Linked DNA regions of Homo sapiens. The protein of the gene in region 2 interacts with the protein of the main gene of each other region in a biochemical or structural test. Each region holds a gene or a part of one and is shown on either strand. Other genes may lie near its edges.

Evidence for each region. The genes of interacting proteins can lie anywhere in the genome.
Region 1: of the proteins of AURKB (region 2) and RACGAP1, one has a biochemical effect on the other in vitro, tested with the Homo sapiens proteins (2 studies listed by BioGRID and IntAct).
Region 3: of the proteins of AURKB (region 2) and CENPA, one has a biochemical effect on the other in vitro, tested with the Homo sapiens proteins (3 studies listed by BioGRID).

What each region holds. Positions count from the first base shown.
Region 1 is NC_000012.12:50,001,495-50,008,494, forward strand, and holds part of RACGAP1 (rac GTPase-activating protein 1), read right to left. Parts: intron 5,143-7,000; coding exon 4,940-5,142; intron 3,899-4,939; coding exon 3,762-3,898; intron 2,811-3,761; coding exon 2,741-2,810; intron 807-2,740; coding exon 753-806; intron 1-752.
Region 2 is NC_000017.11:8,204,172-8,207,674, forward strand, and holds the end of AURKB (aurora kinase B), read right to left. Parts: intron 3,455-3,503; coding exon 3,400-3,454; intron 3,200-3,399; coding exon of another isoform or gene 3,197-3,199; coding exon 3,005-3,196; intron 2,764-3,004; coding exon of another isoform or gene 2,718-2,763; coding exon 2,579-2,717; coding exon of another isoform or gene 2,569-2,578; intron 2,469-2,568; coding exon 2,320-2,468; intron 1,220-2,319; coding exon 1,045-1,219; intron 874-1,044; coding exon 700-873; 3' UTR 563-699; downstream 1-562. UniProt on the Homo sapiens protein: Serine/threonine-protein kinase component of the chromosomal passenger complex (CPC), a complex that acts as a key regulator of mitosis.
Region 3 is NC_000002.12:26,789,056-26,795,089, reverse strand, and holds the end of CENPA (histone H3-like centromeric protein A), read right to left. Parts: intron 2,960-6,034; coding exon 2,850-2,959; intron 2,335-2,849; coding exon 2,257-2,334; intron 1,946-2,256; coding exon 1,811-1,945; 3' UTR 1,764-1,810; intron 1,279-1,763; 3' UTR 501-1,278; downstream 1-500. UniProt on the Homo sapiens protein: Histone H3-like nucleosomal protein that is specifically found in centromeric nucleosomes. Replaces conventional H3 in the nucleosome core of centromeric chromatin that serves as an assembly site for the inner kinetochore.

The DNA.
Region 1 (7,000 bases), on a different chromosome or scaffold from region 2:
AAATTTAGATGACACCACCAGAAAAAGTACAGCTGTAATCCTAACTAAGGACATGAAGTCTTGGAAACACATTAAGTACCCTAAACAAGCATACACAGATAGATCTCTATATATCCCATTATATGAAGCTTATATTAGAGCACAAAAGTTCTGTGTAAAAATTCATATGACAATTCAAAACAAACTTAAGTTTATCCTTTTCCACTGTATGAATGAATTGAAATGCAGCCTAAACAGTGAAATGGACAGGATTCTGTCCTAAGTTACTACTTCAAAGAGTACCAGTACTGGTTGGGAGCAGTGGCTCACGCCTGTAATCCCAGCACTTTGGGAGGCCGAGGCAGGTGGATCACCTGAGGTCAGGAGTTCAAGACCAGCCTGGCCAACATGGTGAAACCCCGTTTCTACTAAAAATACAAAAATTAGCCAGGCATGGTGGCAGGCACCTGTATCCCAGCTGCTTGGGAGGCCGACGCAGGAGAATTGCTTGAACCCGGGAGGCGGACGTTGCGTTCAGCCGAGATCGCGCCATTGCACTCCAGCCTGGGAAATGAGCAAAACTCCGTCTCAAAAAAAAGAAAAAAAAAAAAAAAAAAGAATATCAATACTGTCCCCACAGCATGAATTCATCTGTAGTATGTGCTTAACAATGGCTAGAGCAACATGACAGGAATGCAGTATCATGGCAAAATTTCCAAAAATAACTCCATTATTACTTTGTTTTAAAAAAAGACTAAACAAATCATACATACCCTCTTTTCTCTCTTCTTCAGTTTGAAAGTCTTCACCAAAGAAGAGTCCCAATCCTGTTGACAATTACACTGTATTAATTTCTTTTTTTGGTTAGGCCATCCCTAAACCCTGTGCAAATAAATTTACAGAGAACTTTAAAGGCTTCTTCAGTCAGGCTACCTAACGTACAATTCGGGGAGGGTTAGAGAAGGGAAGGTCTCAAGTGTTGTAGCTATAGAGCTATAGTAAGTTAATGTGCTTTCTTTGAAAAATTGAAGCTATTATAATAAAATCAGGAATCAATACCACAGAGGCAAGAAGAGGTTAAAGAATCAAATTCTGCCATATTTCCAGTGGCTGATCCTTTATTTCTGATTATTTTTGTAATTAGTTTTAGAACTTACAGAATGTTAGGCACTATACTGATTGTATTAGATGTGATTCTTGCCCCCAAGGGATTGCCACTGTCTAATCAAATGCTCTGCATAATATTGCCACTTCACAAGTTCCACAGTTGCCAGGCGATGGCTCATGCCTGTAATCCCAGCACTTTGAGAGGCCAAGGTGGGCGGATCATGAGGTCAGGATATCGAGACCATCCTGGCTAACACGGTGAAACCCCGTCTCTACTAAAAAAATACAAAAAAATTAGCCAGGCGTGGTGGCGGGCGCCTGCAGTCCCAGCTACTCTGGAGGCTGAGGCAGGAGAATGGCATAAACCCGGGAGGCGGAGCTTGCAGTGAGCTGAGATTGCGCCACTGCATTCTAGCCTGGGTGACAGAGTGAGACTCTGTCTCAAAAAAAAAAAAAAAAAAAAAGTTCTACAGTTTAGGAACTTAGGCCCTAAAACGTGTCCACCACTGAAGAACTATTTGTCTTTTATTGTGGTCTCATTTCAATTCACCTATTTTAACTATTTGCATTCATTTTAGTAGTTACCTGTGATTTCCTTACTCCTGATCATCCCTGAAAACAGTATCTAGAAACAGTGGTATACAGCAAATAATAGCTTAGCTAAATAAATTTAACTTCCCCAAGTCATGGTCCAGTAATTTAGTTACTGGTTGTTTGATTCAGCTTCAGTTACAAGAAATATCGTATCATAGGTCTAGCTCAAAAATCAACTGATAATATGATCTAGTTTTATTATATATTCCAGACCTCCACTATATCATTCCCTATTTGAGAAAGGTGATGCCTAATATTTTTATCTATAAAATGGCCGTATTTTCCCTGGTCAAACACTGAATCTGAACAGAAAACTCCTAGCCATGTAACAAATAGTTGTCACCTGTTTTGCTATACCAGAAAACCAGTCACCAAAAACTTCCTGATTTGTTTTGTTTGCTAGTTTTCAGCTAGTAACAGAAAAGATGCACAAATCAATGAACTATATCAAAGACTGTATCAGGAGATGACCTTTTATGCAGAAGCATCACTGTAAGTTAAAAGAAGTGTGCCGCCCCATAAAAGCAGGGCAACAAATAGTTTAACATGTTAACCATTGTTGATGAAAGCATTATATAGTGCCTAGAAACTCTAATCACACTTTTCTGGCTGAAATCCCAGGACCTTGGTTTCCTTCTAATTGTGAAGTATGACTATGCTTTCCCCAAGAACCAAACTAATTCAGAAATAAGGCACAAGTCTATTTAAGAGCAGCAAATAAACCCTGACGACATACAGTCTTGCTAATATTTTTATTATTAGCTGGGGCTTTAATAAGTCAAAATATAATCAGTTAGTACATGTGGCACACAGAGATCTATTAAATGAACTCAACTTATGCCAAATTCTGAATTATATATTCTCACTTCAGAAACTAATATATAAGCCAGCCTCTTATAGCTCATGTGGATTTATATTTTAAATTGCTAGCTCAGAATCTATAACACATCAACTAATAAAATAGTAATATAGGATGTTCAGAAGAGAAGACAGGAGAGATATTCCTGGGGAAGCAGAGGTAAGAAAAGTAGGTAATTCTCAGAGATCAAATGTTTATTACCAGTGATTCATCAGTCTTGTCAAAGCTGATATCTGATAAAATGGAACCAGATTCATCAATGGTTGATAGTCTAGATCAGTGAAACAATACAACGTTAGACATGGTAGACTGTGGAATGTAAAATTCACCAACATTCAGAACAAGTCCTACTGGTCAGGTAACATCAGTTAATTTCATAGCAAAATCTTCACTATAGAGACAATTACAATCTCAAACCCTGTGGTAGGCTACTTTGTATGGTTTCCACGGAGGAGTGTGTGTGCATGAGTACAGGTGCAACACAGTTGCTTTTTCAGCAAAGACCTTATAAGGGCAGTTGAAAGTTAGTCAGGGTTATGGGTGCTATTCTCTACCGAGTTTGTATTACAGGCTACTCCAAATTCACAAAATCAAGGGAATGAAGTTTAATTTGATCCCAACTGTGCTGGTTTCTACAAACAAGAGTATTACCCAACACTGACTTTTTAAGAAATTAAGCCTGTACATCTTCTTAGTTATAAAGATTCCCCATAAAACAACCAGGCAACAAAATAAATAGCTGACCTTTCCCTACATATTGTACTGGGGATGTTAAATTCAAAGCCTGGTTGAGACTATTTTAAACAGTGGTGCAGTGGAACCAAAATTATTGTCTGGTCTTGGCTCACAGAGGCCTTTCTAAACCAGAAGAGCTGTAAGAGCTCTCTGGAGAGTAAACACTGAAAGTATTGCTGAACTGCCACTTTCACCTTTGGGTTTCTTAGCAATGCACAGGATTAGTTATTGATGTGCAATTTAGCACCAACATCAAAATTGTATCCATGGTGAAACAACATCCTTAGGAAAGATTTAAAAATAAAATAAAATAAAATATACAGGGACATCCCTGTGCCTTTATTCCCCACCTACTCTCCCCACAAAATCTTTTTCTGCTTTTTTCAGCACACATTCTAGAAGAAGTATATTTAAGAATTCAGATAACAAGAATATCTGACAGCCTGTGTTGCTTGTGATAGGATAACAACAGATGCAGTTCCTCCACCTTTTGTTCCCAGCATTGCTGCTGGATGGTTGGCCTCTGTTGAGAAAAGCCAGAGCTGATTTTTGCTCCTCGCTTAGTTGAATGCTGCCAGATGTGTCACACATGAGCATCTCTCGAATCAGCTGAATCTGTCGTTCCTACAGACCAAAGCAAAGTAAAACATCATAACTAGCCAGGGGAGAAAGCTTCACCTCAAGTTTATGGGACAGGCAGACCAGAAGACATTAAAATGCAGCATTATGCAAATGGACCTTCAGGAAGGCTGCTACACCAATAGCATATTAATTCACATCAAACCCAGATTGTGTCTCTGATTTCTGACTGGTAAAATGAACTACATCTAGAACAGCGAAGTTTCTGCTACAAGACTTTTGGATTAACCTGCTAATCCAAGAGGAGAATAATGCAAAATGAGAGTCCCAAAATAGATTTCACATAGCAAAAACACTTTAGTGTCATTTTATCAGGACAAATATTGGCTTCTACGGATCAAAGCAGCCACCCACCTCTCAAAGTAGTGGAGCAAAATGCATTAAAATGGATACAAAGCTATAATGCACTGGAACCAGACAATTTGAGTTTACTGAGGCATCTAACACTGTATACCAAGATGGATTAGTCCCTCCCAGTAAAGGCTTTCCTTTGCATTATGACCCATCCTGGCACATCAAAATGATAGTGTTCTGTGTCAGTCACATTGCTCAACTGGTTGAATACATCTAGCCTTTTACCCTGAATTAGAGAGGGGTGATGAAAAGAAGAGTCACAGTTGTCTTGCCTGTATGTATGACAAAGTACCAGCTACTCATGTAAGGATGGATATTCCGGGTAGCACTTAAAATAAACAATGAAGGATGGCCAATAACTTGTGACAGATCAAGTACGTTAGGATCTCCCTCCCTCCCTTTTCCTCTAATTCTTTAAGTTCTCATTTGAAATCTGTCTGTTAAGTAAGTTTCAAGTCTAAGTGACAAAAACATTTAAATTTCAAATTATGAAGAACAAGATTCCTAGTCTGCAATTTCAGCTCTAATCATGGGCAAGCTGTTAAAGAACAGGTCACTTTCAGTTCTTTAATGTGGAAGAAGAAACTAGGTATATTTGGCAAGTGGAAACTGTCAGACAATGCCTTCCCCCTCCTGCATCATCACTGTTCTAGCACGGAAAACAATACACACCAGCTTTTCGCAGTCAGCCTCAGCTCTCTGTCTCCGTTTGATCTCTACATCCACCTGATTACGTGCATGCTTCAGCTTAACATCCAGAGCACTTCGCTCAGTCTCTGCTTTCATCAAAAGATCCTTGTATTTCCCCAGCTCATGGTCAGTCCTCTGCCACTTTTTACGGAAATCCTCAAAGTCCTTCGCCAACTGGATAAATTCTGAGGAAAGGGGGAATCTTTAATAATTCAAGCACCAAACAGAGTATAACTGCTCTAATAAATGAGTCCTACGGTTAGCTTTATTTGAAATTCATAATTAAGGAACCAGCTGAACTATGGGCAAATCCAGCTGAAAATAACTAGGAGCAGATCCTGGATATGTTTGTCACTCTGATGAGAACTTTGTGGGTAGCAATTCCTATTCAATAGGCCACTTACTTTTGGCTTAGCCAGTGGCATCTGCTATGGAATATGTAACTCATTAGTCACCTGGCTCCAGATGTAACACTAACACTGAAAGCTCCTGAACAGAAGGCAATCAAAGGGGGATACCTTTGGGGCAGCTGTCATGCACCAGGACAGTTACAGCTATAAAACAAAAACAGTTTCCTTTACAGTCACGCATTGCTGCACCAGAGAGATGTTAAACAGCAAATTCAAATGTAACTGCTGTAATATGCTCCAGTAGATGTAGATTAATATTACAGATGTCTAGACCTACAATTCCATTTGGCTATATAATTATACAAATATTGATTTGAAAGTAAAAAGCCAATTTGCTTTTGCTGTTTAACACTGCCCTGAAGGGTATGTAAACATTCCAGTTGAAAAAAAAAAAAACAGGAAGAGAAGATCAAACTAGCTTTTGGAACATCCCTGATAGCAGAATGTGAAGTCTCTTCAAATGTCTGCAAAGAGAACATCACTTCCAAGGCAGCATCTCAAAGGAAGAAGATAACCCTGTTGGCATTCATTCTTATCTCCTGCTATTGGCAAAGCTGTTCTGCAATGTATTTGCAAAAGTGCCTTACAATTTTCTAGTTAACCTCCGTCTATCTCTAAGGATCACTCTCCACCAACATCAAGGAAGAAGGTCTCAAGGTGTACATCTGCTGCTGGTCAAACTAACCCAGTTAAAACTGAAACTAGGCCAAATTCACACACAGCTAGCAGATTCTTAGGTAGTAAGGGCACTTTTCCCCTATGAATTTAACCTAAAAGCATAGAAACAATACATAGTCCTTTTTAAACAATTTTAATCATTTGACCAAATATCAAACTTACAAATCAGGATACCAATTTGTTCCAGAAAAACCAAGTAATAAGGAAACTTTAGTTTTTACAAACCACAAATTTCAGCAAAATAGGTTATTATGACCTAGTTATCTTAAACAATGCGGATATCAACAATTAAAAAAATATTACAATTCAAATAGTTTTAAGAAATAATATGCTGGGTTAGTCTGGAACATACTACTTTTTTGTGGGTTTTTTTTTTTAGCTTAAAGAAAAAAACATATATGTTTGCAAACTAAATACCGTATGCATACACACTCAAAATATTTACCGAACTGAAAAACAATTTTGAGAATAAAAAGATTTTCATCTGACCTAATTTTGCTGGTTTGTTTGTTCTTTAGGATACTCCTTTTATTAAATTACTGCTTCAGCTTAGTTTAAGTCAGACCCAAAGCAGAACATTTACATACCTGATTAATATATTACTTTTTGTGTGTGCAGGTGAGAAATGTGAAAAAAAAAAAAAAAAAAAAAAAAAGATATTACTTTTTTTTTTTTTGAGACAGAGTTTCACTCTTGTTGCCCAGGCAGAAGTGCAATGGCGCAATCTTGGCTCACTGCAATCTCCGCCTCCCAGGTTCAAGCAATTCTCCTGCCTCAGCCTCCTGAGTAGCTGGGATTACAGGTGTGTGTCACCATGCCCAGTTAATTTTTGTATTTGTAGTAGAGACGGGGTTTCACCATGTTGGCCAGGCTGGTCTCAAACTCCTAACCTCAGGTGATTCACCTGCCTTGGCCTCCAAAAGTGCTAGGATTACAGGTGTTAGCCACTGTGCCC
Region 2 (3,503 bases):
TAGGCCCTGTTTAACCTGATAAAGGGTATCTATCAAAAACCTACAGCAAGCATCATGCATAACAGTGTAACCTCATGTCAGGAACAAGACAGAATCACTGCTGCTTCTATTGGCTCCTGTACTAGATCCTGACCAGAGCAGTGAAATAATCAAAGACAGCTTCTAGGGTACAGAACTGTTTAGTTGCTCCTACGTTGGCAAAGGGGCAGAGAATGAAACAGAAAAGGAAAAACTAGAAGTTGGACAACCAAGAGAGAGGTGAAAGAAGGTGGCCAGAGATGGCTGGTGTTCCAATGTAGCAATGGGGAGCCAGGGCCCCCAGTGCCCCTGGGCTGTGGGAGTCTGAGCAACGGAAAGAATAGACAGTGAGGGTAGAGGTGGAAGTGGGGGTAGGGGTTGGGGTGGCTGGGAGCTGACCAGGTGGGTGTCAGAGCTGAGAGGGTAGGGTGTTACCAGGGATAGCAAAGTAATGCTCATCCCGGCTCCTCAGGGTGAGCCAGCTCTCCTTCTAGGGAACAGCTTCCTCCACAGCAAAGCCTCCACCTAGAAACATCTACACTCATGAGTACAAAAAGCTTCAGCCTTTATTAAACAAAGGAGGAGGTAGAAAACAGATAAGGGAACAGTTAGGGATCCCTTCTTTCCCCTATACATACACAGACATACAAACACACGCACCCGAGTGAATGACAGGGACCATCAGGCGACAGATTGAAGGGCAGAGGGAGGCAGCACCCTCCGAGAGTTGGCCCGGACCCAAGGGTGGGCTGAGACCTGGGCCAGGGGCAGCCGTTCCGAGGGGTTATGCCTGAGCAGTTTGGAGATGAGGTCCTGGGCTCCCATGGGCACGGAAGCGGGGAACTTTAGGTCCACCTGCAGGTGTGAAGAGATGGAAGGGCTGCATTAGTTTCACCCTGGCTACATCTTCCTTGACTACCCATTCTGTTTGGAGTTACTTAGGGCCATGCAAATACACTCTGCCCACCCCCAGCCCCCCAGCTCCTGGCTTCAGCAGCTGGCACGAAGCCCAGGCCGCCCTCCCACCTTGACGATGCGGCGATAGGTCTCGTTGTGTGATGCACTCTCAAAGGGTGGGTTCCCCACCAGCAGCTCATAGCAAAGCACTCCAATGCACCACAGATCCACCTTCTCATTGTGCATGCGCCCCTCAATCATCTCTGGGGGCAGGTAGTCCAGGGTGCCACACATTGTCTTCCTCCTGGGAGGGATAAGGGGCGTGGGCAGGGGTCCTAGTGACATAGGAACTCTCCTTTCCCTGCTGCCTGACGGCTGGGAGCCAAAAGACCACGGGATGTACCAGGGGAGAGGTCCAGCCAGGCAAGGCCACTGGAGTGGGGGTGGGGTTGGGGTGATGATATATCCCAAAGCCCCAGAGGTGAGCCTGCACACAGCCCAGCAACTCCACACTGAAGGATATATCTTAATAAGATACCCTGATATGAGGGCAGTGTTCATTTGGAGTTCACTGGGGACATCTCTAATGCCCATCAGGCATGTTCTGGTTAAATAAATCAGCTACTATGTGATACTATGAAACCATTAAAAAGTGATGTGGGAGGAAAAAAGGCCACTGCTCCGGGCTTTTTTTGAGAGAGTCCAGGCTGGAGTGCAGTGGGGCGATCTTGGCTCACTGCAACCTCTGCCTCCCGGGTTCAAGTGATTCTCATGTCTCAGCCTCCCGAACAGCTGGGATTACAAGTGTGCACCACCATGTCTGCTTAATAAATTTTGTGTTTTTAGTAAAGATGGGGTTTCATCATGTTGGCCAGGCTGGTCCGCTGGTCTTGAACTCCTGGCCTCAAGTGATCCACCCGCCTTGGCCTCCCAAAGTGCTGGGACTGGTAGGCGTGAGCCACCGCGCCTGGCCAAAGTTTTACCATTGGCCCCTACAGGGATCAAACCTGCGACCTTGGGGTTATTAGCACCACACTCTAACCATTTTTTTTTTTTTTTTTTGAGACAGAGTCTCGATCTGTCACACAGGCTGGAGTGCAATGGCGTAATCTCGGCTCACTGCAACCTCCGCCTCCCAGGTTCAAACAATTCTCCTGCCTCAGCCTCCCCAGTAGCTGGGATTACTGGCGTCCGCCACCATGGCCGGCTAATTTTTGTATATTTAGTAGAGACAAGGTTTCATCATGTTGGCAAATCTAGTCTCGAACTCCTGACCTCAGGTGATCCGCCCTCCTCGGCCTCCCAAAGTGCTGGGATTACAGGTGTGAGCCACGGTGCACGGCCCCTGGAGAGGTTTTAATGGCCCAGCCTCACACCCAGGTCTGGCCTCCCAGGCCACCATACCTCAGGGAGGGCGCATGCACAGACCAGCCGAAGTCAGCAATCTTCAGCTCTCCCTTGAGCCCTAAGAGCAGATTTTCTGGCTTTATGTCTCTGTGAATCACCTTCTTCCCATGGCAGTACATTAGAGCATCTGCCAACTCCTCCATGATCTGGGAGGGGCAACGACAGGCAATCAGACAAGGATGGACCTCCAGCTACAAGCAGCACACCCTCAGCCTCGAGCCCCCTACTGGCGCCCCAGGTGCCCACCCGCCCGGACCGTGGCTGTTCGCTGCTCGTCAAATGTGCAGCTCTTCTGCAGCTCCTTGTAGAGCTCCCCGCGGGGGGCATACTCTAGAATCAAGTAGATCCTCCTCCGGTCATAAAAATAGTTGTAGAGACGCAGGATGTTGGGATGGCTGGGGGAAGAGACAGAGGAGGCCTCAGGCCAAAGGCATAAAAGAGCTGGAAAAGATGATAGGAGCAAACTGGGGTCAGACGTGGCCCAGGCCGGGGACACCAGGGCTGGGAGTGGTAAGGGGAAACTGGAGGCAGATTTCTGGATTCAAGGCTTGCCAGGACTAAGAGCTAAATGGGGCTCACTAGCCATAGCTACAGAGAAAGCAATCTGGATGAAGTGGGGCTGAATGAGGAGCTGGGGGTGAGGGAGCAGAGGGGCTTCGGCTCAGGGGGCATCAACCCATACTGCAGGTGGGCCTGGATTTCGATCTCTCTGCGCAGCTGATGCTCCACGCCCTCCTTCTCTATCTGGGACTTGAAGAGGACCTTGAGCGCCACGATGAAATGGCTTTTCTTCTCCCGAGCCAAGTACACGTTTCCAAACTTGCCTTTGCCCAGAGGACGCCCAATCTCAAAGTCATCAATTGTGAAGTGCCGCCTGCTTAGAAAGTGGAGGAAGGCAACTCAGAACCGGTTTTGGTTATTAAGAGGTTTGCTTTCTCTCTGCTTCCTCATCCCATCCTGTCCTCCGCCCCACTTGTCTTCATCCCTACTCCTCCCGTGCTTAGGTTTTATCTCCCCGACTTCCTGCCTGTTCATTGTCCCCTCACCCCCGTCCACCCCCAGGCTTGGGGCACTTACGTTAAGATGTCGGGTGTCCCACTGCTATTCTCCATCACCTTCTGGCCAGGGGCAGCTAAGGAGAGAACAGGTAGGTTGAATGCGAACAGGGATGACCTTCTCAT
Region 3 (6,034 bases), on a different chromosome or scaffold from region 2:
TGGGAAACTTTTCATTTTGTTCTGTACTAAGAAAAATTCTTCTGCCTTGGGATCCTGTTGATCTGTGACCTTACCCCCAACCCTGTGCTCTCTGAAACATGTGCTGTGTCCACTCAGGGTTAAATGGATTAAGGGCGGTGCAAGATGTGCTTTGTTAAACAGATGCTTGAAGGCAGCATGCTCATTAAGAGTCATCACCACTCCCTAATCTCAAGTACCCAGGGACACAAACACTGCGGAAGGCCGCAGGGTCCTCTGCCTCGGAAAACCAGAGACCTTTGTTCACTTGTTTATCTGCTGACCTTCCCTCCACTATTGTCCTATGACCCTGCCAAATCCCCCTCTGCGAGAAACACCCAAGAATGATCAATAAAAAAAAAGACTCCATCTCAAAAAAAAAAAAAAGAAAAAAAAATTGTGGCTGTTTGCAAACAAATAAAGAACTTATTTTTAACACACAAAAAGTACAGTATAATCTCTATGCTGTAACAGTAAGTCCATTTTCATTAAATATTTTGATTTTTATTATCTCTCTACAAAGAAACTACAAAAATACCCATAAAAGCATCGAAAATGTACTTTAAAATTCTGAACTGTTATGATACATCTTCTATGATTTACAAGAGTAAAATGTTAAATTCTCCAAGTTAGAATTTCTGAATTGATTTTGACAGGAATTTACTAGAAGTAACCAGAACATCAAAGCTTACAGGTTTTCTATTCATCCCCAATTAAGTTTCTGAAAAGCTACACATCCGTTGACAAGCACAGTCCACTCAGTTACATGATGCTGCCACTAATGGTGAGGCTACTCTGAAGGGCAGAGGTCTATATGATGGAAATGCCCAGCCTTCCAGGCAACTGCTCAAAGTGGTCTTATTTTTTCCCTTATGTGTAAAATAAAAGTACAAATGTACATATGGTAAAAAATGTAAATATTACAGAAAGAGCTAAAATAATAAGTACATAGCCTTTTCTCCCATACCACAGCAAATCTGATGTTTTCAAAATCCTCAAATAGTCACATGAGTAACTCACAAACTAAAGTCAACCTTGGAGTCTCTTTATCTGAAAATTATTTTCAGGCCTTTGGAACGGTGTTGATTGTCTCATATATTACCTCTGTTACAGAGGAAAGTCATGCAGTCTTCTCCTTCTCAAAAAAAAGAAAAATATTTAAAGCAACACACACATACTGTTCAGAGACAGCAAAGTCCAGACAGCATCGCAGAATCCATTGGATCTAGTCATGGCTCTGGAGAGTCCCCGGTATCATCCCTGAAATTAAGGAAGCACACTTACTAACAAGCCATTTTCAAAAGTAAGAAAACTTTCTCTTAATCAAAAAAGAGAAAGTTTTTATTAGAAAGTGTTCTCTTTTATTAGAAAGTTTATTAGAAAGTTTTCTCTTAATCAAAATGAGGTCATCTGATTCTTGTAATCTCAACACTTTGGGAGGCCAAGGCAGGAGTTGCAGTGAGCCACGATGGCAACACTGATGACAGAGACCCTGTCTTATAAAAATAAAACAACAACAATAACAACCAAAAGAAATTAGGGTCATCTGGTTATTATTTAATAGAAAGATATCTTTTATCTAACATTGCACAAAAGGGCACAAACCACATTGTCCCAGGCAGTCAAAACTAGATCAACCTTTACTAGAGAACAAAGGGAAGGCGAGGTGACAAGGGACTATGGATGGAGAAAGGAAATTACTTGAGAAATTCCAGCCCCAGTCCTGTGAAAGAGGATGAGCTTACCCCCTGGCTGAGCAGGAAAGACTGACAGAAACACTGGGTGCAGGAGCTCAGCCGAGTCCCTCCTCAAGGCCCCGGATCCTCCGGGCCAGTTGCACATCCTTTGGGAAGAGAGTAACTCGGCCTGCATGTAAGGTGAGGAGATAGGCGTCCTCAAAGAGATGAACTAGAAATGCTTCTGCTGCCTGGAGACAGAAAGAGAAAAAGACGGACACAGATGAAGGGCCACGGGCTGCTTTTTTTTGGAAACCTGCTAAACTTAATCTCTGAGGGCTCAAAGGATTGTAGGAAACTATTCACAGAATGAGACTGAACTTTGCCAGGGAATTCTGCTATCACCACGCAGAATCCAGCCTCCAAACCCTCAGAGGTTACCTCATTGTTCTTTTCCAGAGGTCAGATTCAGCATGTGACACTCCAGTCAGCACTGGAGAATTCTAGGCTGCCTCTTTCTCCCACTCAGCCCTCACCCAATTGTGCCTTGGTGCCTTCTTACCTCTTGTAGGGCCAATAGGGCCTGGGCTTGCCAATTGAAGTCCACACCACGAGTGAATTTAACACATATTTCTCTTGCCTGTGAAGGAGTGGGGAAGGGGAGGAGTAGGAGTAGGGAGTAACAGAAGAGAGATTCAAGGGACAATGATGCTCTCCATGAGTTCCAGTGAATCTTCCTTTCCATTATTTTTTCCTGGCTCTTAATCTTAGGACCCAATTAGGAGCAGGTGTTGACTCCTGGGAGCTTAGGAACTGGCGGATCTCTTACTGGTGATGGGGAAATCACCAGTAATTGGGTGATGAGAGGCAATCTCCCAGGATAGGAAAAGGGATCTAAGGTGGACAAACGAGAGAGTTCCTATTTATACAGTCAAAAACTACAGTTTTAAAAAGGTAGTAGAGGTTAGAAATCAATTCCATAAAGAATTACAAGGTGCTCTTGGAGGGCTCATGTTTTCAGAAAAGAATCCCCTACCAGGTTACAAAAGAGGTCCCTTGGCCAGTTAGTTAAGAGACAGTAGGGTCCCTAATACCTGGGAAAATTTAAAAAAAGGAGGGTGGCATAGGGGTTGGTGGGAAGCTCCCGGAGCTTACCAGGCGGCTGAAGGGCAGCTTCCTTATCAAGAGGTGTGTGCTCTTCTGAAGCTTTCGGATCTCCTTTAGCCAACCTTGTCTCCGCCGACTGTGTTGATGGGAGGAAGCGCCTGAGCAAAAGAAAGGTAAGTTCAGTGGAAAATAGGTGGTGCCTCGCAGCTTGGCTGAGTCAGGTAAGCTGTCAAATTGCTAGACTATATCTATGTGCCTACCCTCCACAGAGCAGGGATTTTTGTCTGTTTTATTAGGTTGCTGCAAAAGTCATTGCAGTTATGGCAAAAACCACAATACTTTTGCACCAACCTGATATATAGTAATTTTGCTGCTATCTTCAGCAATTAGAAAATAGCAGATAGGTGCTAAATAAACATTTGTTAAATGAATGAGTGAATGATCCTCTGCAGTTGATTTTAAATGCTAACTCTTCCATGAAGTCTTTCCCGAATCCTGATCCTTCCAAACAGATGGGTGACCGCCCTCCTCTGGGCTTTGCAGGACTTTGTACAAGTCTTAGATCTTTCCCACCTAGATTGGAAGCTCAGTTATTTTGGTTTTAGATTTTTTGTTGGTTTGTTTTTTACAGCTGGAAAGAATCTGAGAGACTAGTACAATTCCCTTGTCTTGATCATCCTGAGGCCCAGCGAGGTGAAGATGGTTGGCCAGCCCTCATTAGTGGCCAAGCTGAGACCTGTGTAAGGTGTGGCCTAACTCAGTGTCAGTGTCAGGCACCTGGGCTGTGGAGACAGAGCCTTTGGCTCAAATCCTGGTTCCAACAAGAACAAAAAAGAAAATAATTTTAAAAACATTCCCAAAAGTAGGAATCAAAAAAGCCAAATTCTCTAATTGGAAATTAAAAACTCATGAATCAAAAACCAGTTTCTTCTAACTAACCTGTGTTGAAGAGGAAACTTAATTGAAATTAGACTATTTGGAAATGAATAACAATAAAAAGCCCATATCCCAAAACTTATGAGATACAGCCAAAATAGTACTAGAGGAAAATGCATAGCCTTAAAGTGTTCCTATTAGAAAACAAGAACACTAAAAGGTATCTGAGCCAAGCAGTCAAATTAAGTATTACAGAGTTATTAAAGTAAACCAAAACAAGATAGAACAAAAGAAATATTAGAAAATAAGTTAGTGAAAATAAAGTTAAAGAAAAAACAGCACAGTTGCTCCATAATTACAACCAAGGATCAAGATGAGTGAACATCTGATAAGTTGAACAAACAAAATACAAAAATAACATGTTGACGGATAAAATTGTTTCAGAAATGTTATTCAGGATCCAGCCAAGCAAAGAGACTCTACACCAAGTTCGATAGAAGGCATTTAATACAATAAACTAATCACGAAGTGTTAGAAGAGCTGCAAGAGCAAGTAGGGTAGGTGAGACAATCCAGAGATGGCCTGTGCCAGGCAGCCAGCAGAGGAGACCATCCCTGGGTGAGGCTAGAGAACACAGGCCAATGAAACAGGGCAGTGTCCAGAAGACTGATAACATTTAAAACTGGGAAGACCCATGCCCAGGAGAAAAACTACTGACACCTCCCTCCCTCCCCACCACCAGTTGGCAATCCAGTCACTGGAGGCAGTCTTTAATAAACAGACATAGGGCTGGGTGCGGTGGCTCACGCCTGTAATCCCAGCACTTTGGGAGGCCAAGGTGGGTCAATCACCTGAGGTCAGGAGTTCGAGACCAGCCTGATGAACATGGAGAAACCCATCTCTACTAAAAATACAAAAATTAGCCGGGCATGGTGGCAGGCACCTGTAATCCCAGCTACTTGGGAGGCTGAGGCAGGAGAATTGCTTGAACCCAGGAGATGGAGGTTGCAGTGAGCCAAGCTCGCACCACTGTACTCTAGCCTGGGCAACAAGAATGAGACTGTGTCTCAAACAAAAATATATAAATAAATAAAATAAAATAAAAAAATAAACAAGACATAGCATTCACAGAAAATTTGAAGATGAACACAACTAAAGATCACCCAACAATTTAAGAAGGCCAATACCATGAAAGAAAGGAACCAAACTCAACAAACAAAATAGCCAATACCAGAGGAAATTGAGTTAATAGAGAAAAGAAATAGAAACTTTGAGAGAAAAATGGTTAATGAACTCAGAGAGGTAACAGAGATATGAAATCCATGACCCAAGAACAAGTGGTTATGAAAAGTAACCAATTAGAGAGATCATGGAAAAGAACTGGGATCAAAAATTTAGTAGCTGGGTCTTGAAATGCCAACATGAGGAGATGGAATTTAATCCTACTGTAATAAGAAGCCAGGGAAGAGTTTTATGCAGGATAGAGATGTGGAAGGTCATTCCAGCTGCTGTGTAAGGAAAGAAGTAGAAAGGGACAGAGTGGAAGTGGAGTGGCAGCTGATTAGGAGGCTCTCACAGTTGCTCGAGAGCTGCTGGTAGCTTGGACTAGGCTAGTGGGAGCAGAGATGGTGAAAATGGAGTGATTAAGGATGCAGTTTGGAAGTAGAATTATCTGGACCTGCATTTGTATTGGAGACGGGGGTCTCCCAGGCTTGTGGTTTGAACAACTGGGTGGGTAGTTGTGCCATTTACTGAAATGGGGAAGCTGAGGATGAAGGGGCTGGAGGGGAGTAACCAGAAGTTCAGTTTTGGGTGTGTTAAGTTTAACATAACCAAGAGCCTTCAGGTAGAAAGGCAGTTAGATATAGGTATCTGGGGTCAGAGGAGAGATCCAGGTATACAGATATTTGAGAGCTGTCAATGTATGAGTGGGATTTAGAGCCACGGAGGAGATGAGACCACCTAGGGAGGGGGTAGAAAGGAAAAGGATGTCAAGGAAGTCCAACATCAAGGAGCCGAGGGAGGCAGCACAGGCAGTAGAGAACACCAAGCAGAACTGCCAGAGTGCACAGTGGCATGGAAGCCAAGGGAACAGAACGCTTCAAGGAGAAAGAGGCCCACTGCGTCAAATGCTTCTGAGACACAGTAAGAACACAGACCCACCTACTGGATTTGGCACTACAAAAGGTGCTAGTGACCCTGACAGGAGTAGTTCAAGCAGATTAGAAGTGGGGGTAGTGGTTGTGGGGAGTCAGATTGGAGTGGGTTGTAGGGTCACTAGGAAGGGAGGAATCAGATGCAATGTATGTGGACCTAACAAGTCTGGCTATTTTAAAAGGACAGCTATGAAGGGAAGT